4 linked regions of the Homo sapiens genome follow. The protein of the gene in region 2 purifies or fractionates together with the protein of the main gene of each other region. This does not show direct contact. Each region holds a gene or a part of one and is shown on either strand. Other genes may lie near its edges.

Region 1 (7,171 bases), on a different chromosome or scaffold from region 2:
GCTTAGAATGTTCTTTCTTAAAATCTCGGAATAGCTGACTTCTTGTCACTTAAGCCTCTATTAAAATATTGTGTCACAAATACCACACACCTCATTCCTGATCACCCTATCAATAAAATGGCTACTCTTATCCTTAGGTTGCTGCCTAACTCATTAACCTGTCAGTTTCTTCAAATCACTTACCGTTAACTGTCTGCCACTACTACCAAAAAAATGTATGGTCTGTTAAAAACTCACTACTGTATTCCAAATACCTAAAACAGTACCAGGCATTTAATAATAATAGATAACCCTGTGCTACATATTTAAGTGCTTTAGATGTACTTATTCAGTTAACCCTTACAACAACCTTGTCCAAACAGTGGGCAAGCACTATTGCTATCTCCAACGAACAGATGGAAAAAAGAGGCTGAGGGAGGTTAACTTAAAATTTGCCCAAAGTCACAGAGCAGGCAAATGGCACTGCCAGGATCTGAACCCAGGCAGTCTAGCTCTTGACTACCACACATACTGCCTACTGTTTCTGATATTAGACATAAAGGAAACACTTAAAAAAACCTGTTAAATGGGATGGGCGCGGTGGCTCATGCTTGTAATCCCAGCACTTTGGGAGGCCAAGGCAGGCGGACCACCTGAAGTCAGGAGTTCGAGACCAGCCTGACCAACGTGGTGAAACCCTGTCTCTACTAAAAATACAAAAATTAGCCAGATGTAGTAGCAGGCGCCTGTATTCCCAGCTACTTGGGAGGCTGAGGTGGGAGAATCGCTTGAACCCGGGAGGAGGAGGCTGCAGTGAGCCAAGATCCCACCACTGTACTCCAGCCTGGGTGACAAGAGCAAGACTCTGTCAAAAAACAAACAAACAAAACAAAACAAAAAAACCCTGTTAAATGAATAAATTTTAAAGGAAAAAAACTAATCTAAATATGCAAATCTGACAAAGTATACTTATTATAGTAACATATTATTTATAGCAGTGCTCGTCCCATTTTCACAGCATGGCCTTCAAAAAACGTATCTGTACTAAACACTGGCAAGCAGAGATAATTCCCAGGTACAGGGAACCAGTCTGGAGCATTTGGAGCTGAACCACTGTGAGAGCTGAGATCAATATACTGGCAGAAGTGGAGGCCATTCCTAGTTCTGAGAAGCTCTAGTTGTCAATTAAAAGATTCTAAAAACAATGCGATGGCATCAAATTCAGGCTTGGAATCCAACTTTCTAGTCCTAGCATTGATAAATAAGCCAAAGAATTTGTAAACAAAGGTAATTAAAATGTTATCATTTATCTCACCAAACACTGGCACATATCAAATGATACCAGCTTCTAGCTAATTAAACGGATAGCTATTAAAAAAACTGATTCCAATTACCAAGGCAAATCAGAAGATAGCTGTGTTCTAAGAGATCACCTACCTAATAAAAAACACACACATACACAATATACCCTGTTTGGGCATTGTAACAAAATATAAAAATTAACAAAATTTGTTTCTTTTCTTTTTTTTTGAGACAGGGTCTCTCTCTGTCACCCAGACTGGAGTGCAGTGGCACGATCTCGGCTCACTGCAGCCTCGATCTCTCTAGACTCAAGCGATCCTCTCATCTTAGCCTCCCGAGTAGCTGGGACTACAGGCGTGCATCACCTACGCCCAGCTAATTTTTTTGTATTTTGTAGAGACGCGGTTTCGCCATGTTGCCCAGGCTAGTCTAAGAACTCCTGAGCTCAAGCGACCCGCCTGCTTCGACCTCCCAAAGCGCTGGGATTGCAAGCGTTTGAGCCACTGCGCCCGGCCAAAGTTTTTTATTATCTACTTTCCTATCATTTTATCCCTAGTACACTTTCACTTGCTGTTTTCCTTGCATGGCGGGGGCAATAGGCCTGGTGGGTAAATCTGAATAAAAACGAGAACAGCTGCAGTCTAACTAGCTCTGCCACTTAATGGCGTGACTGGCCCTTTTCAGAAAGTTGTGCCTCACTGGAATGTTTCAAAAATATGTAAAAATAATATGATCTATAAGACAATCAAAAACGCTTCAAATAAGGCGCGGGTTATATTACATAATATCCCTCCACTCTGGCAGTGTTGGCAATGGCAGACAACACCATGAAACTGAAAGCATCCCTTCAGTCTGAAACTGGCGAAAAGGCTACAGGTTTACAAAGTCTCACATCAGCTGAAAATAATACATCCATCAATTCTATCTTTGGCATGGTGTATTCTGACAGTGGTGGATAGAATGTAACCACTTGCTTTATTAATTATGAGATGATTGAAAGAGGAACTACTAACCAAGAAATTGGTAAAGGCCTAGCACAAATATTTTCCCCCTAATTTTACAGGGGCGGGAAAGACCTGAAGAACTTCAAAACCAAGTGGGAAATAAGAATGGGTAACTTGTGTATTTTTTTTTCCTGGCTTTTTTTTTTTCCTTCTTCCGAAGTCAACAAAGGCCTCAGGGTGTCCAGATTGCTACTGATTCATTCTTACCAAGTTCCTTCTGGTAATAGTTTTCAAAAGAGGATCTCAGTGGAGGTGCACAGTGGCGCTCCTAGCTTTCTTTTTACGGAAAGGAGGAAAGGTGCTTGGCACCAGTCGGGGAAGCTCACGCCAAGTGACCGAGACCAGAACTCGCTCTCGACCGGAGCCCCCCAAGTCTGGTGACTTGGAGGAAGGAGGATCCCGAATCCCAGCCAGAACTGAGAAAGCCCTCAAAGGTGCGGAAAGGGGACTTTTCCCTCAGGAAAGCCGGCAACAGCAGAGGCCCTAGCCCACGTCGCCACACCCACTCCGCGCGCGCCCCTCGCCTCCCAGGGCCGGCTCTGCTCGGCCCCGCGGCCTCTCGGGCGCCCCCAGCCCGCCGGAAAGAAAGAAGCAGAAACCCGGAGCCTGGGTCCCACCCGCGACCCCTCACCTTCGCCCTTCTCGTCCTCTCACCTGCCAGTCCCCCAGGAAGAACAGGACGCCTCTTCCCCCTGATGGGCGGCCACAGGCTCGGATCCTTCCATTGCCGCCTGAGACACCGCCGCCGGCTACTGGAAGGTAGGAAGGGGCGGGACCGTGGGGGGGTCAAGGGGCGGGCGGAGACGTCATCAGAGGGGGCGGGCCTGGGGAAGCTAGGAGCCCGGCAGCGCCTTCCCGTCAACCCTAGGGGCGTCCTGGTTTCCGGTTTGGGTGTGGCCGCATGGCGTGCTGTGGTGCAGGTGGCCGAAGGGGGCGTTACTGTTGCGACTGGCATCCGCATCCGGCAGATGTAGATGGAACCAAAGTCCAGAAGTTACGCGTCACCCTTGCTCTACAGCCAAACATGCAGGACTCTAGTAACCCGCGAAATGATGGGATAGCGTTGCAAATCCTTAAAAGAGTCTTAACGGTAAGAAGAGGAAACAGCTTTATTTTATAAATAAACTGAAGGCTGCTAATAGCTCCAGATTGTCAGTGAGGGGATACCACTTAAAGATGTTATACATTTAATAAATAATTTTGGGAGTCCACTACATGTGAGGCGCTGCCTCAGATTTAATAGAATCATGTGACTTTTAGTGCCATAGATGTCGTTAGATCATCCAGTTTGGTCCCTTAAATTTGTGGGTAAGGGAAAGGAACTTCCGGTCAGTGCAAGTGACTTGGTCAAGGTTATAGAGCTAGTCACTGTTAGATTACCAGAACACATATCTAAAAAGTTCTCATATAATTCTTTTTCATTTACTTCCGTGTCACCTTTCTTAGAAAGCAAAAATGAGTTGGACACAATAACATTAGGATTTGTCTTTCACTAAATAACACTGTATATTTGAATAAACATCTGCAGGATTTTTAAAATTAGCATATACTTTGGGTATTATGTAATTTTCTGTGATGTATCATATTTTTAATTAGAAATTTTTCCTCTCATATGGAGATGAGGGTCCAGGCAAAACTGTATTATCCTTCGTGCCCTCTATTCTCTTCAAAATTGCACATCTTAAAATACCTGGAAGCTTTATGTTGCTCACCTATAGCATTATCCGTGTTCCTCAATCCAGTTGTGAACCTTTTCCACATTAAAATGTTCTTGATCTGTGTTCTATTCTTTCAAGGCTCTGCTCTAGCACTAAGATAATGCTACAGGACTGAAGATAATGAAAAAGATTGAAGAAAGCAGAAACAGAACAAAAATCAGATTATTTCAAAGTTTCTTTCCTTGTAAAGGTTAAAACAGAGCATACTTCCTTATTATGCCCACTAGGTTAACTAGAATCTCCTGTTTTTTTAAAAAAAACTGGCTCATTTTTTCAAAATCCACTTTAATTACATGGTGCTTAGCACAAGCAACTCCATTCTGGTTTGATCTGATGGGGCCTAGTGTAGAAGGCTAGGCCAAAACAATGGCCTGCCATTACCCACGCTTCTTCATATTTTAACATCCATGAATAGAGGATGAATTTTTAAAAAATAAATACAGAAAACGATGCATCTTAAAATTGAGGGCATGTTAGATTTGATAAAATATGGTGTGAATTATTTCAGGCATGTAACAAGCAACCAGATTTAACAGATTTTAATGTTTTGTCACATATGTAAAATGGGAAAGAAAACTAGGCGATCACAGCTTTTTGACAGTGAGGCTTTATGTCATAAGAAAGTAGAATGACATATTGAGGAAACTTAAGGGAAAAATATGTAGGCCAAAGATTTTACATTCAGCAAAACTAATATACAAAAGGTACAAACTGTTATCAACAATTGATATATCAATTTGGTGAGACTAGTGTTTTCATGAGCCCCTCCTTAATAATTAATTGGAGAAAGTGTCTGACAATCAGAATTATTACAGAAACATTGATCTAAGGATTGACTCGGTTTCTTTACAGCAAATCATAATCTGTTGCATTTATTAGCTTTTGTGTTTCTTGTAGTTTATTCTTTATTACTAATTCTCCTGAGTTCTGTCACCTCATTTCTGAGGTTTTTCTAATTCAGAATCAAGTTCTTCCATATCTTTTATCATTTCTCTAATGTCATTTAGCTAGTTTCAAAATAATAAATTGTTTTGTAGTGCATCTTTCAGGCATGTTTTTATTATCTTTGATGATGATGTTATATTCCTTATTCTCTTCACATAATAACTGCATGGATTTGAACTTGATGCTTTTTTTGTTGCTCTTTTTTTTTTTTTTTTTTTTTTTTTTTTGAGACAGAGCCTTGCTCTGTTGCCCAGGTTGGAGTGCAGTGGCGGGATCTTGGCTCACTGCAAGTTCTGCCTCCCGGATTCACGCCATTCTCCTGCCTCAGCCTCCCGAGTAGCTGGAACTACAGGCACCTGCCACCACGCCCGGCTAATTTTTTGTATTTTTAGTAGAGACGGGGTTTCACCGTGTTAGCCAGGATGGTCTCGATCTCCTGACCTCGTGATCCACCCCTTGGCCTCCCAAAGTGCTGGGATTACAGGCGTGAGTTATTGCTCATTTTTATGTGAAATTGGTGTTCCTGAACTAATATGAGACAGGCTTCTTAGCCCAATAAGCCTAAGTTTATCAGGAACAAAACTGTATTCCAAGAAAGTCAGGTATATTAGTCTGTTTTCACACTGCTATAAAGAAATACCCGAGACTGGGTAATTTATAAAGGAAAGAGATTTAGTTGACTCACAGTTCCACATGGCTGGGGAGTCCTCAGGAAACTTAAATCATAGCAGAAGGTGAAGGAGAAGCAAGACATATCTTACACGGTGGCAGGAGAGAAGTGAGATCGTGGGAAAACTGCCACTTTTAAAACCATCAGATCTCATGAGAACTCCCTCATTATCACAAGAATAGCATGGGGGAACTGCCCCCATAATCTAATCACCTCCCACCAGGTCTCTCCTTGCACACATGGGAATTAAAATTTGAAGTGAGATTTGGGTGGGGACACAGAGCAGACCATATCATCAGGTTTACTGGCTCATTGCAAGGAGGGAGCCCACATTCCAGAAGAACCATGGGGTACCTCACCAACAGAGGAAGAGATAGATTTATTGTAGGAATTTGGGGAAGTATGGAGTTTAGAAGGAATTGAAATGAAGTAGTGCTTTGATAGACTCAAAAGAAAGCAAGGCTGTTTGTAAAGAATTCTACACTACATCTAAACTATTACTAATGGCAAAAACTGCAATTACTTTTGCACCAACGTAATACAAGATGGACCCAGGGTTCTGTTTTTTGGAAATTGCAAAGTTCTGCCTCTCAGAAGTAGAAACTATTTCTCTGTGTCAATGTGACTTTAGATATTCTAGCCAAGAGTGAGATATTTCAATCTTAATAATAGGATTTAAACAGCAGAGTTTTTGACAATCTTTTGATATTGTCATAAATGTTCTATGATTTTAGAGAAAAGGGCATTGTGTGAGTAAAAAATCAGTTACTCTAAGGGTGTGTGTGTGTGTGTGTGTGTGTGTGTGTGTGTGTGTGTGTTTGAGACATTTTAAAGCATCTTCCAGAGAGAAATAGTATTTTCTGTTAATTTCACAGCTGGCTTTATTTATGCCTGTTATCCCATAGCTGATGAATGGCAAAGCAGATTTTTACTTTCTTATTCTATGCTTATTTGCTTTCTCACAGGTTTTGGGAAAACTTTTCTAATTTCAGAGAATTCCCTTTTCTGTTGCTTTTGTGTAATGTTCAGCAATATTATGGTTTTATTTCCTTTTTAAATTAATACATACATAATAAGCATATATTTATGGGGTATTTTGATATTTGCGTACAAGGTATAATGATAAAACCAAGGTAATTGTGATATCCATCACCTCAAACATTGTTTATTTCTTTGTGTTAGGAACATTTCACATCTTGCCTTCTAGCTATTTTGAAATATATGATAAATTATTGTTAACTATAGTCACCCTCTAGTGCTATCGAACACTAGAAATTGTTTCCTCTATCTAATTGTATTTTTGTACCCATTACGCAACCTTTTTCATCCTCCTTACCCCCAACCTTCCCAGCCTCTGGTAACCATCATTCTACTCTCTACTGCCATGAGATCCACTTTTTTAGCTCTCACTTATGAGTGAGAATATGTGCTATTTGTCTTTCTATGCCTGGCATTTCACTTAACATAATGACCTCCAGTTCCATCTATGGTGCTTCAAACTACATGATTTCATGTTTTTGTGTAGATGACACATTTTTAAAATCCATTCATCT
Region 2 (7,083 bases):
CGTGTTGCTTCCATTTTGGAGACTTCAGAAAATAGCCCCAGTTAAGTGTGCAGCTACATGGCATGCCAAGGGACAAGATGTCTGTAAGTTTCGCTGCAAACCAGGATCTCAACCTTGCCAATGAGGTGGGGGAGGCCAACGGCTCATCTGGCCTTCCTGAGCCAATTCAGAGAGGCCCAGCTCTGTCTCTCAGCTTTCCTGATGGGAGGCCAGAGAACTTTGACGTGGTTCTTGACCACAGGCTTGGCCTCCACTCTGGCTGGGAAGGAATCCACAGCTTTTGGAGGAGGCTCAGATGGTGGTCCAGAACCTTGTTTTTTTCTCCTGCTCCCCACAAGAGGCCCCTTCTCCAACCATTCCAATCTATGGTAACCTCCCCTTCTTCAAAAATTCTACATGATTTACTGTCCATATGACTGAAAATAGCATTTCATACATCCAACATTCATTTCTTTTTTAACTATTTGATAGCTCAATATCCATCTCCCCAACTAGAATGGGAGTGCCTCACCACAGGCCATGTCTGTGTCTTGCACCAAGGCTGGCATAGAGTAAGTGTTCAGTAAATATTTCTCTAGTGACCCTCCCTTTGGGCTTAATAAGATTAAGCAAACACCATGCTCTCAAACGGGAGAGTGTGGAACAATTAATGGAAGTGTGGCATCAACACAGTGAAGAGGAATATGAGAACTGACTGGAGGGAAGCTACCTATTTTGGTGAAAACAGGGGACACAAACAACTAACTCTATCTATCTCCCTGATATGACAGCATGATAGAGTGAAAACTTATGCAGGCTTTGCAGTCAAACGTGGATGCAAATCCGAGCTTGTTAGCAGTCTGACCCTGAGCAAATACTTACCTTCTCTTAAAGACACAGTTTCTTTTTATATAAAGATATATAATGGGCATGTATCTACTGCTATTTTTTAAACTAGGAAATCAGAATTGCATCAAAGTAACTTTTAACATGCCTACTTTGCTAAGCCATGGTAAATAAGGGTGAAGTAAAATAATGTATAGAAAACTTCAAACACAGTATCTGGCCCATAGTACGCATGTCATGACTGTTGATTCTTTTTCCTACCCATCCCCACTGTTCAGCCTCTCTCTCTGATTTTCTCTCACTTTAGAAGGGCTATTGTTTGCCTTAGAGGCAAAATGCCGTGGTTGTTAAGACTTTTTCCTTCCCTGCTAATCCATCTAGGATTCAATCCACAGAATTTGGAGGATGAAGGCAAAGGACAATGGACTGAGCCAAGATAGAGGGGGAAGGATATGTCTAAAGACAGCCAGTACAGGAAACACTGTCTGCTTGGTGCACTTCTGGGGAATGGCTTCATGTTGGCTTGCAATTTTGCTGCCCATCGGATCTCCTCCCACCTCCTCCACCTCACCCCTATCAATCATCCCTTTTCTCTTCTGTGTCTTCAACCTCTTCTTCTTTACCATCTACTTCTTAGCCTATAAATATGTTCAAGTCTGTCCTATTTCAGAAAGACACCTACCCAATACACCTCTCTTAATTTCCTGCTTCCTTTTTAGCTACTTTTGCCCTATTGACATCTTTTCCTTCATATCCAAGCATCAGAAAAGAGGGATGCCCCTTATTTATCACCATCCATTCATAAGAGTGGCTCCCAGACAACGTATCTCTATTTTTCTCCATGTATTTTTGCAAATAAAAAAAAAAGCCTGTCTGCATACCAAAGTATTGGTTAATGAATTCTGCTCATTTCCTAGATTTTTCTTGCAGGTCAGCTAAGTGATCCGCTGGAATGTCAATAACTGCAGACACAGAAAGGCAGGAGGAGTGTAATTTTCCTTCAGACAGAGCGAACTTCTCCCAGTCTCATACTTTCAATGGTTGTCATTCTTTATAGGCAAAAACTAAGAGATATCCTTTGAGTTGCATAGTAAACAAGTCTTGATGTAACCAGTGTATCTTGACACCACATGGTAGCAACGTGCATAAACAGAAGTAGCTCTTGGCAGAACTCCATTTAGGAATTTAAGCTGTGGAAATTGCAACTAAAAGTGATAGTTGGTAAAAGGGTTACTTGAGGGAGGCAAACATTGAGATGATGCCTGAGATGGTTCCATAATAGTACACAGAAAGGAACCTCATTAAATAGGACCTGAATGTCTTCAGGATATTATGAAGTTCCAAGAACTTGCATTTCACAACATCCTTCTGTGGCCTATATACCTCATCACCTACATTGAGAAGGAGTTTAGGTACAATATCCTTCTATCCAGTTATACCCTTTAGGTATAGCAAGGTTGCAATTTATTCTCCAGACTCCATCATCCTATTGTTTTATACACTGAGCTCCTGCTCATGTAGGACTAGTGAAAGGGTTCTGAAACTTGCTTTAGAGACACAACATACAGATGATGCACAGAGAACCACAACAACTATTAATAGTTACTACTAATAGGTGGTGAAAGACCTACAATTCTACTTGAAGCCCACTTGTCCAGTTGTGGGATGATACAGATGACAGTGTCCATAGAGCAGCAAAGAAGCCTTCTTGCCCCCATGAAAAATTCATCTTCTCCCTTTAAAATTTGTCTCATTTATGCTCACTTTATAAGGAGTTTTTCTCCTCACTGGTCTGAAATTACATTTAAATTGTTATGACAGGTAACTCAGTAAAGAGGCAAGAGCATAGTTGCTTTTTGTGTTACCATATTTACTCAAATGAACTTCCAAGAGAAAATAAGGTTGGCATATCTCTCTGTTTTTTGTACAGAAATATTCATAGCATCTTTATGTGTAACAGTAAAAAATACTAAAACCAACCCCAATGCCCTTTAGTGGGTGACTAGATGAACAAATTTTGGCATATCCTTATCATAAATTACTACTCACCAGTAAAAACAAAACAACTATTGATACACAGAACACCTTGAATGGATCTTAGATTAATTTGCTTAAGGTTAAATAGCTAATCTCAAAAAGGTACAGTGTATTTTTTTGTTGTTTTTTCTAAGTAAATCTGTCAAAATTTGACTAAAATTCAGGACTCCAAGCTAGAGCCAGGAGCACAGATCCATGGAACTTTCATTATAAAGTTTTCTTTATGTGAGGTGATGAATACGTTAATTTACCTGATTGTGGTAATTATTTCACAATGTATATGTATATCAAAACATCACATTGAACACCATAACATACACAATTTTTATTTGTTAATTATATTTCAATAAAGCTGAAAAAAAAAGAAAGGAAGGAAGGAAGGTTAACTTCTAAATTGGTCTACACAGTAGGCTTTGTAAGTGAAACAGTGGATCACGTAGAAGTATGATGAAGGAGGTCAAGGAGACAGAATGTGTAAAATAGAAAGTTACCTGGGGACGTTTCCACACCACCTTTCCAGGAAGCAGTCGGTTGTAGAAAAGAGAATCATTCTCAGGCAGAAATGTTGGATCACAGAAAAGTCTGCTGTCTTTGATGCATTCCTGCTTCAGTTCCTGGTATTTCTGGTTTTTGAAGAGCTTCAGAGGAGGACCCATAGTGTTGAACTATGCCTAGAATGAGGAAAATTTTTGTCTTTGAAGGAAGAATTTCTCAGGTCTTTTAAGGGTTACCTGAGATTAGACAAACAGCCGTCATCCCAGTGACTTCTTCCCAGAGCTAGGCACTTCTAGTTTGGCTTTAAAGGAAATGTCACCATTTTCAAAGAAAGAAGTGTCCACACTCCGCAACTAATTAGTATGGGGCCTTGGGTAAGGCACCTAACCATTTTGGGTCTCAGTTTCTTTATCTGTCAAATGGGGCAATATGGGCCTTAATCTTATTGGGGAAAAATCAATAATAAAAGTAAAGATTGTGAATTAAATGTGATTCATTATAATTTAAAGAGAAGTCTTCCATTTACACCAGCAGGGAGTAGTTCAAGGCAGAGAACAACTTGAAGATAAGGGAAAAATCACTTTACTGTAGTCAGAATAATTTGGTGCCCTGGAGAGTCGCACACTTTGTGCATGAGGGGAAAAGCAGCCTCTTTCCATTCCAGCAAGTCTTTTTACACAATTTCTTCCGTCTTGTCATTTAAAGAGCTTTGCATTTTTTATTATTGGCCAGGAAGACTACTGCAAGAAACAGCTCAGCAGATGGCCTCCAAAGACAAGGAAAGACAGAAAGATTGTATGGTCTTTCTTCTTAAAAGTCTAATGTATAATCCTTTGCCTGTGATAAAAGGCAGACTCTGAAATTCAATTACACTAATTTGGTGGGCTATAGATTGTTATCCCATGGCAATACACTCTTGCTTTCTTTTCTTTAAAAAAAAAAAAAGGAGGAAAAACAAAAACCTTACATGGCTAAACAGAGAATTCATATAGTGGCTCTTCAAGCAATGTCTATCAGAGTGCCCCACACTCAAGTGCTCTTAACAACTGGTTTTTAGGAAGATAATTTGAAAGGCAAATTTGATTTTCAATAGCTTTGGGGTGATAATAGGGTTTTCAGTGCTTTTTCTTGATTCACAAAGATTTGTAATGATTTTAATGATCCTCTCCTGGCATTCAACAGTAAATAAGAATGAGATTGTGAAATTTACATGGTGTCAACTATTTCAAAATGTATTTTAGAAATAACTAAAGTCTATATTCTATAATCACAGGAGGGTTGAAACAAAAAAAACCTGACTAAGCTACAGAATGTCTGCTAAAAAATAAGGAGAATACGTTAGCACTTTAAGGAGTATCTGTGTGGTATATCTGTGAGGCAGTCGCTGTTTTATAAAAAGTGAAATATTGATCAGACCTCTCTACTAGTTCATTTTATATCCTTTCAGTATCACATTGAAATGCCTCACTGGTAAAGAAGTTTCCCCATTTGAAAACCATAACAATTTTTAATTTAAATGTTTGCAATGTTATTACAATGTTATTTGCAATGTATGTACAACAAACTTACCCTTTCTCTGAATCCAAGGAATAAGAAGCTGAGAATAACCACATTTTTTTCATAGCCTTATTTATTGGCAATTGCTTTTAAAATTGAGAGCTGTGGGGACACTGCAAAATACTGATGTCCCTTTTTTCATCAGATTTGTCTGCTCATGTGTTTTAAATATTAAAGTGTACTTCATTGTATTTGAAAGCATGGATGGTATCAGTAAAAATTTTTAGTTATGCAGCATCAGAGCCAACCTGAATGTTTGCCCAGACTCCTTTCTGGAGGCTGTTACAAATGGATCCCAATTTTCTTGTGTGCTCAAACTTACAACAAACACTACTGCGCCTCTTGCTTTCCCTAGAAGGTTTGGTGAATTGCCAGAGCCTGGGGACTGTAAATGTGGAAAAGCCTGGGGCAATTAGAATATTTAGTTTGCCAGAACCTCCTAGTCCCTGGACATTCTGGATAAATGAGTATTTCCTGTTCTGCCTTCAAAGGTCTTCCTTACTACTCGGTCAAATGGCAAGGCAGGCAAGATCCTGCAAAAGGAATCCCTGTTATAAAGAGGGCCTGTGTACAGACAGAAGTAGCACCAATTGAAAGGAAAATCAGGTTTGATTTTTAAAGCCCATGTGATCCCAATAGACTCTTTCAGAGGCAGAATGTACAGCTCACATGGATAGATTACAGCTTGACGGAACACCTTTTGGGTCAGGGTGCCTGTGTTCTGGGGACACACAGTAAATAAAGAAGAGCAGACTATGAGCCTGAACTTCCACTACAGTACAACTGTAGTCCCAAGTCCTCTCGGACTTGGAGAGTAGAAGTGACCTTCATGTGGAGGTTGCAGTGAGCCGAGATCGTGCCATTGCACTCCAGCCTGGGCAACAGAGCGAGACTCCGTCTCAAAAAAAAAAAAAAAAAAAAAAAAAAGTGACCCGCATTTCTGACTGGGCAACAGAACTGTGATCCATTTGCTCTGTGACCTTGTTCTCTTTGTGCCTCAAATTTTTCATCAGGAAAGTGAGGTTATCTACCCTGCCCCTCTTACACCATGGGTGTACCTAATGAGATGGTTGGTGTAAGAGGAATTTTGAATAAGTAGAAAGTGATCCATAAATGCAAAATATACACTGAAGCCCTCTCATTGCCTAGCATTGAGCTGGGCACACAAATATTGTTCAGAAAATGTTTGTTGAACAGATAAATGTCTTATGTGGAGAATTAGTGATTGCATGGCAATTTCTTGTTTGAAATGTGCATTTTACATTTTAGTTCGGGTTCTCATCATAGCAGTCATGTTTAATGAGATTATCTGTGCCCTTCATTTTGTATCTGCAGAAATGGCAGCTCAGAGAAGCAGTAGCTAGAAAATGGCAGAGTTAACTCAAATCCAGGTTCTGTGCAATGCCAGATTCAGTGTGCAGCTTTCCATCACACCACACTGCTTCTTTTGGTCACTGCCTTCTTAGAGAAAGGATTTTTTAGTTCAAATGAGGAAATCCTCCAAAGCAAACATGATACTCAACTTTGAGGCATTCTGCCTAGAATTTATTGCCATGGTAGACATTGAAAAGGTTCTTTATTTTCATGGTTTGATGTTCATGGGAGAATCTGAACTCTTTACATCGGCGGGTTCATCATTTAAACATCAGAATACTTTTGGAAACCCAGAAATTTGTAAGTTGAGTTTGTCATAAACAACTTACTCTGTTGGAACGGATGAGTGCAGAGAAGGGAACACTCCCTCCTTTCTGTTCTATTGCACCCGATGGCGATGGGGAAGGGAGAGCCCTTACGTTAAAGATCACATATTAGGAAAGTCGGGAGACAAGATAAAAGTTAGGGCTTTGAGTATAAACCCAGGGATTTGAATATAAACCAAGGAGAGCCTCTAGCTAACAAAGGCAATGTGGACATTTGAGAAGAGGGACCCTGTGGCCTGAGGGCTAGTGGAATGAGCGGTTGGGTGAGGCAGAGTGTGGTGGGGCTTAGCATTGAGGTAATGGTCTTAGGCAATATTATTATAATTCAGATCCACCACTTTGAGAAAGAATATGAGGACAACCGTGTCTGCCAAGGCAAAGGATAGGAGCGGGCCCAGAGTGCAGAAAGTTGAGAATTGCCAGGGAAGTTGAGGGAGACTGCCACGTAGAATACAAGGCTGCAGTTTAA
Region 3 (7,083 bases), on a different chromosome or scaffold from region 2:
TTTGCCTAATCATTCTGCTAGTGATTTCTTGAGCCTGACTCAGTTAAGACCATATCTGTCCCCGTTCCCACTGTGCCCTTTCCCTTCCTCTCCCTGGAATGGTGGGGAAGAGAATTAGATGGGCTTTGGTCAGCAACCTGGTGTTCCTGGTCCTGCGTGGCCGTGAGACACTTTGTTCTGTGTTCTTAGCTGTAGCTTTAAGAGGACAGGTGTGCTGAGGTGGCAGCTCCTGCCTTCAGGGCACAGGCAGGGACTGTAGCTAGGTGGGCTAAGGCTAGGTGCCCATGTGGTCCTCATGGTCAGGGGAGGGTAATGGGGGAGGTCTGAGAACAGTCTTGACTCCACCTGAGCTCAGGCTCAGAGAGGAGGTCTGGACACCCTCACTGCCTTGGTGTGCCACCTTGGTGTCATAGTGTCAAGCTCTGGAGCACCATTGTCCTTGTCTGAGAGGTGCACGTGGGTGGAATTGGGTGTTGGACTGGGCACAGCACCCAACACGCAGCAAGTGCTTCGTAGGTCTTCTGCGGACTGAATCTCATGCCTCACTCAGGTCTCTGTCTCCTTGCTGCTGCACCTGCAGCTTCTCCCCGTTCTTATCCTTGTCCCTGCTCAGTCTCAAGTGGCTTCCATTGCCACCTCCCAAGGGCTGCCCTAAGCATTGTCTCAGGCCCCTACAGCCTGGCTTGGGACTGCCCTACCTCTCCTGTGCCCACATTCACCCTTTGTCTTAGAAGTCCCACCTGCCCTTCAAGCTTGGGTGTCTCTAAAATTCCCCTGCCTGCTGCCTTCTGGACTTGCTGAGCCCTGTTCCCAGCACCTGGGCAGCTGCAGGAAGTGGGGGCAATAGGGTGATTGGCAGAGGACCCTCCAGGAGGTTCCTCTGCAGAGTTACTGGGGGTGAGGCCCAGCCTCTTTGATTGTTTGCTTCCAGAGCAGGAAAAGTCCTGGTCTTGGTTAAAGCAAGTGTGGGATTCTCCCATTCGTCTGATAACCCCTGAGAACATTGTTGTGTCCATTTCTGAACAGAAGGCTGTTGGGAGCAAGGAGGCTCTGGGAGACCCAAGGGCCTTTCAGGGGGCTGGGTGGTGGCAGTGGTCTGCTGTTGGTATGAGGAAGCCTGGCTTGGGTGGGAGCTGGGGCCCTGTGAATACCTGAAGCACAGATGGGTCTGACAGTTGGGGAGAGGCAGCTATAGGCATCCAAAGATGATGACCATGTGGCTACACTGTTGTCACTAATTGTTGGGCAATTCTCTCCCCGCTGGGCCTCTCTTTCCCCACTTTTAGAATATGGGGCAGGGGGTCATGAAGGAATCTTTAGGGACCCTTACACTTTTAAAAATGTCTGAAACTCCCACATCGAGCCCTGGTGCTGTTTCTTCCTGTAGGGCCTGGCGACTGGGCACTTGTGTATCTCAATCATCCTGGGACCTGGCCAGGGAATCTGCCCAGCCCTAGGCATGCGGATGGTGTGCTCCAGGCCAGCCCTGCCAGCATGTGGAGGCGTGGACCTGGCCACCCTCCATGGGATTCAAGGCAGGCACAGCTGTGATGGAGCAGCTCGTCTTTGGGGATGCCAAGCGAGCATGCTTTGTGGCTTAGCAGGTGGATCCAGAGGAAGGCCAGGCCCAGTGCTGGGAGCCCCTGGGCCCCTGGGGGTGCCTGGCACCACCTGAGCAGGACCGACTGTATATGATGTCTGTCCCTGTGAACTCCATACTGACTCCACAGGGGGAGTCTGGGCCCTGCCTGGTCTCCCAGGAGCTTGCGGCCCTGGATGAGCCGCTGCCTGTCTGGGCCGTGATAGGTTAATGATGATGCCTGTTACCTTGGCCCAGTGCTCTGTGAGCCCCCAAGGTCAGGGAGTGGTGTCCCTGTGCCCTTGTGTCTGAGCATCCGGCCCAGGTCCATATAGGATTCCTGCTAGGTCTCCCCTGTCACTTAGGGACCACAGTCCCTTCCTTTGAGGGAGGAGATCAGTTTCTTCTTTGTCAGTTTTGGGCATCCCCCAGTCAGTCAGACCTGCTTCCCCACATAGGTGGACCAGATGAAACTGTTACACACATCGGGGGTAAGAAAGATTTGGTTTCTTCTCAGACAGTACACCAGCTGTTTGAGGTGGTGGTGGCTGGTGGCCAGGGCTGGCCAGGACTATGCAGGCTTTGACAGGTAAAGCATTGGCCTTAGACCCTGTGTTGTCCAGTGTTCAGAGTGTGGCCTCTGAAGCCGAACTCTGGAGCAGGAGAGGGCCCAATGTGGCTGCCTAGCTGCCTCCTTGGGCTCAAACCCTGCTGTCCCAAGCTGGGCTCTGCTCTGCTGTGGGAGGTGGATGGAGAGATGGGGACTGAGTGGCAGGCAGGCTCCCCTTGCCACCCTCAGAGCATTGCAGGCCAGGGTTAGGGTTAGGAGGAGGTCACTGGGGGCCCAGCTTCTTTTTTAGAAGCTACTGTGTTTTAAAAAATCATACATTCACTTTAAGAACAGCAGAAAGTGGAGAGAACAGTGTCAATAGGACCTGTGTAGATGGCGCAGGACAAATGTGGGGAGCACTGGGTGTTTCTCTCTGCCAGCTCTTCTTCCCTTGTGAGTGTGTGATGTGTACAAGACACCATCAAACACAGGGGAAAGGCTTTGTGCATCTGTAATAGTTGTTTTTTGTTAAAGTTAGTTTGTTGCTACTCTGAGATACATAAAAGCAGGTTTAATTCAAGTAGATAAAGACAGGAAGGTTTCTGTGGATCCAGAGGTTCTGTGGTACTTCTAACTTATACTGTTGTGTTACTATATGAAATAATTGTCATGGTTTGCTTTTTATAGTTGGCTTTTTACTTTTTAATTTATTATTATTATTATTTATTTATTTTGGTAGAGTCAGGGTCTCACTGTGTTGCCCAGGCTGCTCTTGAACTCCTGGGCTTGAGCGATCCTCCCGCCTTGGCCTGCAAAGTGTTGGGATTAGAGATGTGAGCTACCACGCCTGATCTATAGTTTGCTTTTTTTTTTTTGAGACGGAGTTTCGCTTTTGTTGCCCAGGCTGGAGTGCAATGGCGCGATCTTGGCTCACCACAACCTCCGCCTCCCAGGTTCCAGCGATTCTCCTGCCTCAGCCTCCCTAGTAGCTGGGATTATAGGCATGTGCCACCATGCCCGGCTAATTTTTTTTGTATTTTTAGTAGAGATGGGGTTTCTCCATGTTGGTCAGGCTGGTCTCGAACTCCTGACCTCAGGTGATCCGCCTGCCTTGGCCTCCCAAAGTGCTGGGATTACAGGCATGAGCCACCACGCCCAGCCTTTTTTTTTTTTTTTTTGAGACGGAGTCTTGTTATGTTGCCCAGGCTGGAGTACAGTAGCTCGATCTTGGCTCACTGTAACCTCTGCTTCCCGAGTTCAAGTGATTCTCATGCCTCAGCCTCCTGAGTAGCTGGGATTACAGGTGCGCGCCACCACACCTGGCTAATTTTTGTATTTTTAGTAGAGACGAGGTTTCTCCATGTTAGCCAGGCTGGTCTCGAACTCCTGACCTCGGGTGATCTGCCTGCCTCAGCCTCCCAAAGTGCTGGGATTACAGGCGTGAGCCACTGCGCCTGGCTGCTTTACTCATTATTTACTTATTTATTTATTTATTCATATTATTATTATTATTATTATTATTATTTGAGACAGAGTCTAGCTCTGTTGCCCAGCGTGGAGTGCAGTGGCACGATCTCGACTCACTGCAAACTCTGCCTTCCAGGTTCAAGCAATTCTCCTGCCTCAGCCTCCCGAGTAGCTGGGATTACAGGAGCCCACCACCACGCCCGGCTAATTTTTGTATTTTTAGTAGAGATGAGGTTTCACCATGTTGGTCAGACTGGTCTCAAACTGTTGACCTCAGATGATCCACTCGCCTCAGCCTCCCAAAGTGCTGGGATTACAGGCGTGAGCCACCGCGCCCAGCCTTTACTCATTTTTTAAAGCCACCTTCTTTGTTGGATGTTTCCACATAATCAAAGGTGGAGAGAGTAATAGAGTGAGTCCATGTATGCTCCTGCCCTGCACCTGCAGTTTGCAGCTGTGGCCGGTCTTGTTTCTACCGCAGTTCATCCTGTGTAGCTGTGTCTGTAAGTATATCAGTTGTTTTGCTAAGAAAATAGAATCTTTTCTTTTTTTTTTTGAGATGGAGTCTCACTCTGTCACCCAGGCTGGAGTACAATGGCGCGATCTCGGCTTACTGCAAGCTCCGCCTCCTGGGTTCACACCATTCTCCTGCCTCAGCTCCCCCCCGCCCCCCCGCAGTAGCTGGGACTATAGGCGCCTGCCACCATGCCCAGCTAATAGAAAATAGAATCTTTTCTTACAAAACTTAACCATTGTTGAACTTTCACACCTAAGAAACTAACAAAAATTCTTTAGTGTCATCTGTTGTCCAGTCAGTGTTTGGATTTCCCCAGTTTGGCTCATAAATTTCATTTTACAGTTACTTTGTTTCTTCAGAAGCCAAGCAGGATCTGCAGGTTGCATTTGGTTGAAGGCCTTCTCAATTTTTTTTTTTTTTTTTTTTTTTTTTTGGAGACAGTCTCGTTCTGTCGCCCAGGCTGGAGTGCAGTGGCGTGATCTTGGCTCACTGCAATCTCTGCCTCCTGTGTTCAAGCAACTCTCCTACCTCAGCCTCCAAAGTAGCTGGGACCATAGGTGCACACTGCCACACCTGGCTAATTTTTTGTATTTTAGTAGAGGCGGGGTTTCACCATGTTGCCCGGGCTGGTCTTGAATTCCTGAGTTCAGGCAATCAGTCTGCCTCGGCCCAGCAAGGTGCTAGGATTACAGACCTTGTCATTTTAAAGACAGCGCCATGTGTGGCCTGTCCTGTCCCCTTTCATACTGCACTGGCATTAGCCCTGGCTACTCTATTTTTATGCTGTGGAGGGTGCCGGTAGGCGGAGATTCCCACTTTATCTGCCCCTGCCAGACACCTTACTCTTGTCTTTCTCTTTTATTTCCTTTTTTTTTTTTTGAGACGGAGTCTCACTCTGTTGCCCAGGCTGTAGTGCAGTGGCGCGATGTCTGCTCACTGCAACCTCTGCCTCCCGGGTTCAAGCGATTCTCCTGCCTGAGCCTCCTGAGTAGCTGGGATTACAGGCGTGCACCACCACGTCTGGCTAACTTTTGTATTTTTAGTAGAGACAGGGTTTCATCCTGTTAGGCAGGTCTTGAACTCCTGACCTCATGATCTGCCTGCCTCGGCCTCCCAAAGTGCTGGGATTACAGGCGTGAGCCACTGTGCCTGGCCTCTCTTTTCTTTTTTAAAATATTAGCCAGGGGCCGGGCGCAGTGGCTCACGCCTGTAATCCCAGCACTTTGGGAGGCTGAGGCAGGCGGATCACGAGGTCAGCAGATCGAGACCATCCTGGCTAACACGGTGAAACCCCGTCTCTACTAAAAATACAAAAAATTAGCCGGGCTTGGTGGCAGGCACCTGTAGTCCCAGCTACTTGGGAGGCTGAGGCAGGAGAATGGCATGAACCCGGGAGGCGGAGCTTGCAGTGAGCCGAGATCGTGCCACTGCACTCCAGCCTGGGCAACAGAGCGAGACTCCGTCTCAGACAAAAAAAAAAAAAAAGTAGCCAGGGTGCCTCCTTCAGCTGATGCATCATGGCTTGGCTCTTGCATTGCTGCATTGTCATCACCTATTCTGGTTCATCTGTCGCCCCAGCCTTTACTGTGGAGCTCTGCCCACCTGAGGTGATGTTGTCATCTAGTGGGTGTAGATGCCAAGCCCTTCTAAACCAGAAGGGAGGAACTAGTATTGTCACTGTCCTACCATTGAGGGTGCTGAGGTCATAGTGAGGACCACTCATACTCTTACTAGCATGGCAGTGGACTCAGCCATTCTTGGCTTGACTTCTGTGACCTGGAGCCAGTCTCTCCCCTCTCTGGGCCTCAGTTTCCTTGTTTTAGGCCAGTGCATTCCTGACGCCCTTGGAGGTGGATCAATTTCTCCCTCTAGTGACAGCATCATGGCGGGCTCAGGCCCAGGACGCAGCTGCTTTGCAGGCATGTGTTGCCTGCTGCCTGGGCTCCCCATCTGCTTTGCTCTGCCCTTCTTCCTCACACCCATGTTCCCTCAGTACCACCCTCACAACATGCTGGGGTGTAAGGGCTGGTTGATGACAAGCATGTCCATAAGCCTAGGGGATTCCTTGGGTGTCCTAAAATGTGACCTAAGATAATTATCGGGGAACATGCCCCGATATTCACGTAAGTTCTTTTCATTTTCCTTAAGTGTCGGCCAGCTTGAGAAATAAAGGGACAGAGTACAAAAGAGAGAAATTTTAAAGCTGGGCATCCGGGGGAGACATCACATGTCGGTAGGTTCCGTGATGCCCCACAAGCCGCAAAAACCAGCAAGTTTTTATTAGGGAGTTTCAAAAGGGGAGGGAGTGTGCGAATAGGTGTGGGTCACAGACATCAAGTACTTTACAAGGTAATAGAATATCATGAGGCAAGTGGAGGCAGGGCAAGATCACAGGACCACAGGACCGAGGCGAAATTAAAATTGCTAATGAAGTTTCGGGCACCATTGTTATTGATAACATCTTATCAGGAGACAGGGTTTTGAGATCAACTGGTCTGACCAAAATTTATTAGGCGGGAATTTCCTCTTCCTAATAAGCCTGGGAGCGCTATGGGAAACTGGAGTCTATCTCACCTCTGCAATCTCGACCATAAGAGACAGGTATGCCCCAGGGGGGCCAGTTCAGAGACCTACCCCTAGGTGTGCATTCTCTTTCTCAGGGACGTTCCATGCTGAGAAAAAGAATTCAGTGATATTTCTCCCATTTGCTTTTGAAAGAAGAGAAATATGGCTCTGTTCTGCCCGGCTCACCAGTGGTCAGAGTTTAAGGTTATCTCTCTTGTTCCCTGAACAATTGCTGTTATCCTGTTCTTTTTTTCAAGGTGCCCACATTTCATATTGCTCAAACACACATGCTGTACAATTTGTGCAGTTAATGCAATTATTACAGGGTCCTGAGGTGACATACATCCTTCTCAGCTGACAGGATTAAGAGATTAAAGTAAAGACAGGCATAGGAAATCACAAGGG
Region 4 (8,068 bases), on a different chromosome or scaffold from region 2:
TTGAACAAAGAGCTCCTAGAACAAAATGAAAAATGCAAATGAAAGGTGTGCTTTGAAAATGTACCACAGAAATTAATTTTTAAAATTACATTGTTGATTCCTTAATTAGGCTTAAAAGTATATTAAGACTTCAGATTCTCTTGGTTTCTCAAATTAAATTACAAGAAATCACTGGGGAGGCCAGGCGTGGTGGCTCACGCTGGTAATACTAACACTTTGGGAGGCTGAGGCAGGCGGCTCACTTGAGGTCAGGAGTTTGAGACCAGACTGGCCAACATAGTGAAACCCCATCTCTATTAAAAATACAAAAATTAGCTGGGCATGGTGGCGGGTGCCTGTAATCCCAGCCAGCGGGAGGCTGAGGCAGGCGAATCGCCTGAACCTGGGAGGTGGAGGTTGGAGATTGCAGCACTCTGGCCTGGGTGATCAAGCAAGACTCCGTCTCAAAAAAAAAAAAAAAAAAAAAAAAAGAAATCACTGGGGAAAAGAAAAACATGAGGTCAGAAAGAAAGCAAAGCCAGTATCAAAATTGGCGGAGAAGCAGGCATTTTCCAGAGGCTTATTTTAGATGTCTAACTTACGAAAAAGATGAATCGTAACTGTTTAATGACCAACCTCTAGAGTAAAAGAAAGAAGCGGCCGGGAGCTGTGGCTCAGGCCTGTAATCCCAGCACTTTGGGAGGCCAAGGACGGCGGACCAAGGATGGTCAGGAGATCGAGACCATCCTGGCTAACACGGTGAAACCCCGTCTCTACTAAAAATAAAATAAAAAAAAAAAACAAAATTAGCCGGGCATGGTGGCGGCTGTAGTCCCAGCTACTCGGGAGGCTGAGGCAGGAGAATGGCGTAAGCCCGGGAGGCGGAGCTTGCAGTGAGCCGAGATCGCGCCACTGCACTCCAGCCTGGGCGACAGAGCGAGACTCCGTCTCAAAAAAAAAGAAAAAAAAATAGAAAGTAGCAAAAAGCCATTCAAAAATTCTATTTGGCTCAGGAATACCTTTTTAGTCTTCTATTTGCATACACTGTTTCTAAGGTGGTTCACCTACAACTATAGTGACCACAGCTTACATTTTGCCAAAACTTTTCTATTCTAGGAACTGACATACAACCCTCAGACCTAATGAAACAACCGGAACTGATCTTCTCCCTCCTGCATCCCAGTTCTTATAGCAGGGCCAAGTCTTCATTTTTACAGAGGCTGAACTGAGCCTCTTTCTCAAGGTTTTGACTTTAATGCATCTAGTTCAGTTAATAAGGGATGAGAAAGACGGGCGTGATGGTTCACGCCTGTAATCCCAGCACTTTGGGAGGCTGAGGCAGACGGATCACCTGAGGTCAGGAGTTCAAGACCAACTTGGGCAACATGGTGAAACCCTGTCTCTACCAAAAAATACAAAAATTAGCCGAGTGTGATGGCAGGCACCTGTAATCCCAGCTACTCAGGAGGCTGAGGCAGGAGAATCATCTGAACCCGCGAGGCAGAGGTTGCAGTGAGCAAGACAGTGCCACCGCACTCCAGCCTGGGAAACTCCATCTCAAAAAATAAAATAACGGGTCAGAAGTGCCTGCATAAATCCTCATTCCTTAATACCAATAGAATGAAATTGTATAGGAAAATACAAATGTCCCCAGATGAAATGCTGAATATGCAATTATTTCCCTGGGCTCTAGGAAAACATGGCTCTGACATAAAGCGGGCAAGAAACCTGTAATTTCCCACTTCCCTTAGTTCTAGTCCAACACTGCAGGGACATCATATACTTAACTACAAGTAGGGACTGGAAAATAGAATCCAAGACAAGCTAAAGCATTTAACTGTGTAGCTGAAACATGGCCCAGTGTCAGAACAGGAAAACATCTGGCCTAACACTATCGAGACGCAATTTTTTTAAAAAAAGACAAAATTATCTATTTTGCACCCAGGAGGATGCTAAGCAGGCTGTAAAACTTAAGTTCCCCGGACTTCCTTAAATTCTGGTTGGGGAATGTGCTGCCTCTTAGACGAGGGGCCCCAGCTGTGGCGGGCGGGAGGGCTCGAAAGCCTCGGACCGCTGGAGCTGGCACCGCACGCGCGGGAAAAGAGCCTCGAGTCGCGGGTGAAGCGCCCGGCTGCCCCTCCCACGGGACACTGGAGGAGTTAGGGCCCTCAAAGCACGAAGCAGTCCAGTGACAAGAAAAAGGCAGGCCGGGAGTAGGGAGTCGCGGGTGAAAGAGCCCCCAAAGAACCCAAATGAGAAGAGCGCCACTAGGCGCCGACGCCCACGGGTAGGGCCGGAAACTGAGCGCCGCACGCGAGGGAGGACGTGAGCGCACAGGTGGGAGGGACGAAAGGCGCGCAGAGGAACGCGGGAGCTTACGGGTTTGCCGAATGGAAGCGCGAGAGAAACGGCGGGAGGACAGTGGGGTGGGCGGGGCGAAGGTGCGCACGGAAGGAAGGGGCGGGCGGAGCGAAGGAAGGCGACAAAGGGCGGGAGAGGCGCGCGGTAGGCGAGGCGAAGAAACTGGAGAACGTGAGGGAGCGGCGAGGGGTGGGCGGGGCGAAGACGCGCGAGAAAGTGTGGGGGCGCGCGGGCACCGAAGCGCGCGCCGGCGTGGGACGGGGACAGCGGGGCGCGCGCGAGCCCGGCAAGAGCAGCCGGCGGCGCGCGGGCCTAAGGGGACTGGGCAGTGCCCAGAGCCCGGCGGGGCGGGGCGCGAGGGGTAAGGGCGGCCCACACCCCCGCCCTGCCCCCTCACCGTGGCCTTGGCCGTGAGCACCAACGCCTCCTGGTTGATGCTGGACACCTCGGGGGAGCTCTTCATGATGACCCGGATGCGGGATAGAGGCAGCGAGATGAGCCGCTGCTCCCCGCCCTTGTCTTTACCCACGACCACGTCCGCCATCTTCCCGCCCGTCGCGCGGGTGCCCGCAGCCGGCGGGCCCGACCGCGAAGTGGCTGCCCTGCCCGGCCAGCTGGTGGGTACGGGGAGCCGCGCCCGCTGCCCCGTGGGAGTTGTAGTGTGGGGAGGCGAGGCCGCGAGGCCGGGAGCGGCCCGTCCGGGAAACTACGAGCTCCGTGAGGCCTCGCGCCCCCGATCTGCGCATGCGCCGACGCTCGGACACCGCCCCCGAGTGCGAGGCCCGGCGCGGAACCGGCAGCCGAGAGCCTGGCGGGGGCGGGGCGCACCGCGCCGCTCCCGGGAGTCTCCGGGCTGCGGTCGCGGAATACGACTTTGATCCGCGGGTGAGGGCTCTGTGAATGGGCAAGCAAAGCCCTCTGACTCCGGGCCTCGTGGCTGGGTGCTGTGTGTTAAGCGCCTGCGCTGTACTAGGACCGGGCGTGCCGCCGTCGGCAAAAAGTGACGCTTTCTTGAAGCACAAAGTCCAGGGGGGACGACCAAGCGGACAGCGGATGCGTCCTGCGCCGGTAGCCAGGCGACCGGTGGAAGAGCAGAGTCCAGCGCGGGCGATGCGGCGGGGCCAGGCTTGCTGCGCCGCGGGGTGATTGGGAGAAGAGCCTTCCTGCGGGGTGGAGGACGAAGAGCTGCCCTGAGGAGGTCCCGGAGTCTGGTGGGAACGGCCTCTTCGGGACTGCTCCGAGAGACGGTGTGCAGAGCCTGGCGTGCTCGCCGAGGTCTGACAGGCAGCCCGGGGCTAGGTCCTGTTGGATTTTTTTTTCTAAGGAAAATGGGAAGTGGTGGTAGGGTTTGAGCAGTGGAGTCCCGGGCAGTTTTAAAAGGATCCCTGCAGCTGCCGGCTGGGAGGGCGTGGGTGCGCGTAAGGCCGGAATCACAGAGACCAGGTAGAAGATGATTACGAGAACCCAGGAACGTGGCCCTCAGGAGGCCGGCAGTACCAAGGGGACAGCAGCTGGGAGGAGAGAGGCAGGAGATGGTCAGGGGCCAGACCAGGGAAGGCCGCGGAGACCGCAGAATTCGCTCTGAATGAGTGGGGAGGCCCTTGGAAGAGTAAGGGGTCCAACTTAACTTTTTTTTTTTTTTTTTTTTTTGACACAGAGTCTCGCTCTGTCGCCAGGCTGGAGTGCAGTGCGATCTCGGCTCACTGCAACCTCCAACACCCCGATTCAAGCAATTCTCCTGCCTCAGCCTCCTGAGTAGCTGGGATTATAGGCACGCGCCACCCAGCTAATTTTTTGTATTTTTAGTAGAGACGGGTTTTCACCATGTTGGCCAGGATGGTCTCGATCTCCTGACCTCGTGATCCGCCCGCCTCGGCCTACCAGAGTGCTGCGATTACAGGCGTAAGCCACCGCGCCTGGCCACCAACTTAACTTCTGCCAGGATCATGGGAAGTGGTAGGGTTTGGGGTCTGATTTCAAGAGGGAGCTGCTGTGGAGTATCAGCACAGCTTACTGAGATATCAGAAAGGCCTTGGTAAAGAGCCCTTTACTGAGACAGGGAGCACATTTTGGCAGAGGTTTGAATTGGAGCGTGTTAAGTGTAGTGTCTTCTTCACCACTGTGACGTGAGGTCCTGGCGCAAATAATTGAGCACAGAAATACATGTCAGGCATTGCTAGGCACAAGGGTACAGCCAGTGAGCAGGGCTGCCATGGTCCCTGCCCTCTTAGAGCTGACCTTCAGGTCTGAGGGAGACTGAAAAATAAGTAAGAATACCTCCAGCCGGGCGCTTTGGCTCACGCCTGTAATCCCAGCACTTTGGGAGGCCAAGGTGGGTGGATCACCTGAGGTCAAGAGTTCGAGACCAGCCCAACCAATATAGTCAAACCCCATCTCTACTGAAATTATTAAAATTAGCTGGGCGTGGTGGTGGGCACCTGTAATGCCAGCTACTCGGGAGGCTGAGGCAGGAGAATCGCTGGAACCCAGGAGGCAGAGGTTACAGTGATCCGGGATCGCGCCACTGCACTCCAGCAGCCTGGGCGACAGAGGGAGACTCCATCTCAAAAAAAAAAAAAAAAAAAAAATACACCTCCAATGCTGAAAGCTACGAAGGAAACAAAACCATGTGCGAGTGATAGGGCAGCCCCTCTGGGAAGTGACATTTGTGCCCAGATCTGAAGAAAGAAAAGGAGCCACTCATACAGAAAGACTGAGACAAGATGAGCTTTCGGGACAAGTCAGGCTCTAGGGAGAACACCTGACGAGGAAAATGCCTGGGCAGTTTGAGGAACTGAAAAGCCAGTGTGTCTGGAGCTTAGTGAGGGAGGCAGAGAGCACGGGAGGTGTGGTTACCAAGGTAGGTGGGACCGGCTCTGGCCCTGGGTAAAAAGTTTGACTTTCATTCCAAGAGTAATGGAAAATAATGAAGAATTTTGAACTCGAGGTGGTGCATGCCTGTAATCCCAGCACTTTGGGAGGCTGAAGCAGGCAGATCGCTTGAGCCCAGGAGTTTGAGATTAGCCCGGGCAGCATAACAGGGCAGCATCTCTACAAAAATTTTATTTTTGGCCGGGCGCGGTGGCTCACACCTGTAATCCCAGCACTTTGGGAGGCCGAGGGGGGGCAGATCTCCTGAGGTCAGGAGTTCGAGACCAGCCTGACCAACATGGCGAAACCCCGTCTCTACTAAAAATACAAAAAATTAGCCGGGCATGGTGGCACGCGCCTGTAATCCCAGCTACTTAGGAGGCTGAGGCAGGAGAATCGCTTGAACCCGGGAGGCGGAGGTTGCAGTGAGCCAAGATCACGCCACTTGCACTCCAGCCTGGGCAACAAGAGAGAAACTCCATCTCAAAAACAAACAAATCCAGACCAGCCTGGCTAACATGGCAAAACCCCCTCTCTACTAAAAATAGAAAAATTGGCTGGGCATGGTGGTAAGCACCTGTAATCTCAGCTGCATTGGCGGCTGAGGCAGGAGAATCACTTGAACTCAGAAGGTGGAGGTTGCAGTGAGCACAGATCACACCACTGCACTCCAGCCTGGGCAACAGAGCAAGACTCTCAAAAAAAAAAAGTTTTGAAGGGAGCAGATCCACTTTAAAAGCTCACACTGGTTCTTGAGTGATGACCAAATGGCACTGTGCCTTATGCAGAGCCGACTCCTGGCAGTTTGCACAGGCTGGAGGTGGAGCTGCAGACTCCCTCTCCCTCTCGGCCTTGCCTCTGTAAATGGGAAAGCCGTTGACATTCACAAAAGAGGGGCAGGGAACTGCTACACAAGAGCAGCTACACAAGAGGGTCCTTTGGTCCACACAGGAAACAAGCCATAGTGATGACATATTTTGAAGCTGTTAGATGTTTTGTTTCCCTAGCTGGCTATTATTTTTGTATGGCTTGTCTTTCTCTTTTGAGTATGTGTGAGAACAGGATGGGTTAACATTAGGGAAGAGCACAGAAGAGGAAGGAAGGAAAGAAGGAAGGGAGGGAGGGAAAGGAGAGAGAATAGGGATGAGAAGCTCAGCTTGTAGAATTGGCAGGTGATGTTTGCAGTCATTAATCATTTGAGAAGTAGAGAGAGAAGCCAAGCAGGAAATCTTCATACTGGAAAAGAAGTGCTCACCATTAAAAAAAAAAAAAAAAAAAATCCAGTGTGGTTCACAGCTGTAATCCCATCACTTGGAGGCTGAGGCAGGAGAAATACGTGAAGCCAGGAGTTTGAGACCAGCCTGGGCAATATAACAAGACCCACATCTCTACAAAGAGAAAAAAAATGTAAAAAAAAGAAGCTTTAAACCTAAGACGGCAGAATTCAAGACTGTTGTCCTTGAGAACTTCCTGGCTCTGGAAAAAGCTCAGTGAGTTAGTCTCATCCTGTCGTTAGCTCTGTTTTTTAGGGGCTCACTTTGTCTTCACGACAGTACCTTGCACCATTCTCATGGGTATCCCAGGGTGGTGCAAGGCAGTTTTCTGCACTTCCCAGAATGCCCTGTCAGCTGGCTTCTGGGTAGGTTCTGCAAATTGGAGGCCCCTGTGAAAGATCGCTGTGGGGTGGGAGGAAGAAGCTTTATCTGCCTGCTGGCTGCAGGGTAGAGGACTGCAGTGGGGTTATAGGGATCACCACCTGCACATGTGGAGCTTTGAGCGGCTTCACTCTAAGTTTCTGCTCAACAGTGGCAGCCCTGGAGTCCTTCGGGGGCGAGTGTGGGCTCCTGGGCTCCAGGCCAGGGGCAGTCCCAGCTTCCTGATCTCGAGGTAGCGTCTCCTCCCTTTTGCTCCATAGCACCTCGCCCTTCTCAGTGACGTGCCTCCTTCTCAGTCATGCGCCTCCAGCTCTAACAATGTCCTTGAAAACAATTCTTGACCATGCGCCGTGGCTCACGCCTGTAATCCCAACACTTTGGGAGTCTGAGGCAGGCGGATCACTTGAGGTCAGGAGTTTGAGACCAGCCTGGCCAACATGTAATCCCAGCTACTCCCTCCACTTGATTTGTGTTCCTTGAAGAAATTTGCATAATCCCTGTATCTGGTTGGCAGATAGCAGAGATGTAGCCTCAGTCTTTCCTTTAAAAATTTTGCTTTAGGCAGGGCGCGGTGGCTCACACCTATAATCCCAGCACGTTGGGAGGCCAAGGTGGGCAGATCATGAGAGCAGGAATTTGAGATCGGCCTAGCCAATATGGTGAAACCCCGTCTCTACTAAAAATATAAAAATTAGCTGGGCGTGGTGGCACAAGCCTGTAATCCCAGCTATTTGGGAGGCTGAGGCAGGAGAATCGCTTGAATCCAGGAGGCAGAGGTTGAGATGAGCCGAGATCACGCTATTGCACTCCAGCCTGGGCAACAGAGGGATACTCCATCTCAAAAAAAATTTTTTGCTTTAGGGCCAATCGTGGTGACACACGCTTGTAATTCTGGCACTTTGAGAGGCCGAGGCAGGTGGATAATTTGAGGTCAGGGGTTCGAGAGCAGACTGGCCATGATGGTGAAATCCCATCTCTACTAAAAATACAAAAAAAGCCAGGTATGGTGGCATACGCCTGTAATCCCAGCTACTCGGGAGGCTGAAGCAGGAGAATCACTTGAACCCGGGAGGTTTAGGTGGCATTGAGCCGAGATTGCACCACTGCACTCCAGCCTGGGTGACAGAGCGAGACTCCATCTCAAAAAAAAAAAAAAGGGCCGGACGCGGTGGCTCACGCCTTTAATCCCAGCACTTTGGAAG

What was found.
Region 1: the proteins of CAPN6 (region 2) and UBA6 purify together in Homo sapiens (affinity purification with mass spectrometry; 2 studies listed by BioGRID and IntAct, with this or other methods). This does not show direct contact.
Region 3: the proteins of CAPN6 (region 2) and BICD2 purify together in Homo sapiens (affinity purification with mass spectrometry; 2 studies listed by BioGRID and IntAct, with this or other methods). This does not show direct contact.
Region 4: the proteins of CAPN6 (region 2) and CHRAC1 purify together in Homo sapiens (affinity purification with mass spectrometry; 2 studies listed by BioGRID and IntAct, with this or other methods). This does not show direct contact.

The regions. Positions count from the first base shown.
Region 1 is NC_000004.12:67,698,110-67,705,280, forward strand, and holds the start of UBA6 (ubiquitin-like modifier-activating enzyme 6), read right to left. Parts: upstream 3,047-7,171; 5' UTR 3,011-3,046; coding exon 2,940-3,010; intron 1-2,939. UniProt on the Homo sapiens protein: Activates ubiquitin by first adenylating its C-terminal glycine residue with ATP, and thereafter linking this residue to the side chain of a cysteine residue in E1, yielding a ubiquitin-E1 thioester and free AMP.
Region 2 is NC_000023.11:111,260,419-111,267,501, forward strand, and holds part of CAPN6 (calpain-6), read right to left. Parts: intron 3,534-7,083; 5' UTR 3,519-3,533; coding exon 3,354-3,518; intron 1-3,353. UniProt on the Homo sapiens protein: Microtubule-stabilizing protein that may be involved in the regulation of microtubule dynamics and cytoskeletal organization. May act as a regulator of RAC1 activity through interaction with ARHGEF2 to control lamellipodial formation and cell mobility.
Region 3 is NC_000009.12:92,754,776-92,761,858, reverse strand, and holds part of BICD2 (protein bicaudal D homolog 2), read left to right. Parts: intron 1-7,083. UniProt on the Homo sapiens protein: Acts as an adapter protein linking the dynein motor complex to various cargos and converts dynein from a non-processive to a highly processive motor in the presence of dynactin.
Region 4 is NC_000008.11:140,506,316-140,514,383, reverse strand, and holds the start of CHRAC1 (chromatin accessibility complex protein 1), read right to left. Parts: upstream 3,063-8,068; 5' UTR 2,885-3,062; coding exon 2,738-2,884; intron 2,389-2,737; exon of another isoform or gene 2,359-2,388; intron 16-2,358; coding exon 1-15. UniProt on the Homo sapiens protein: Forms a complex with DNA polymerase epsilon subunit POLE3 and binds naked DNA, which is then incorporated into chromatin, aided by the nucleosome remodeling activity of ISWI/SNF2H and ACF1.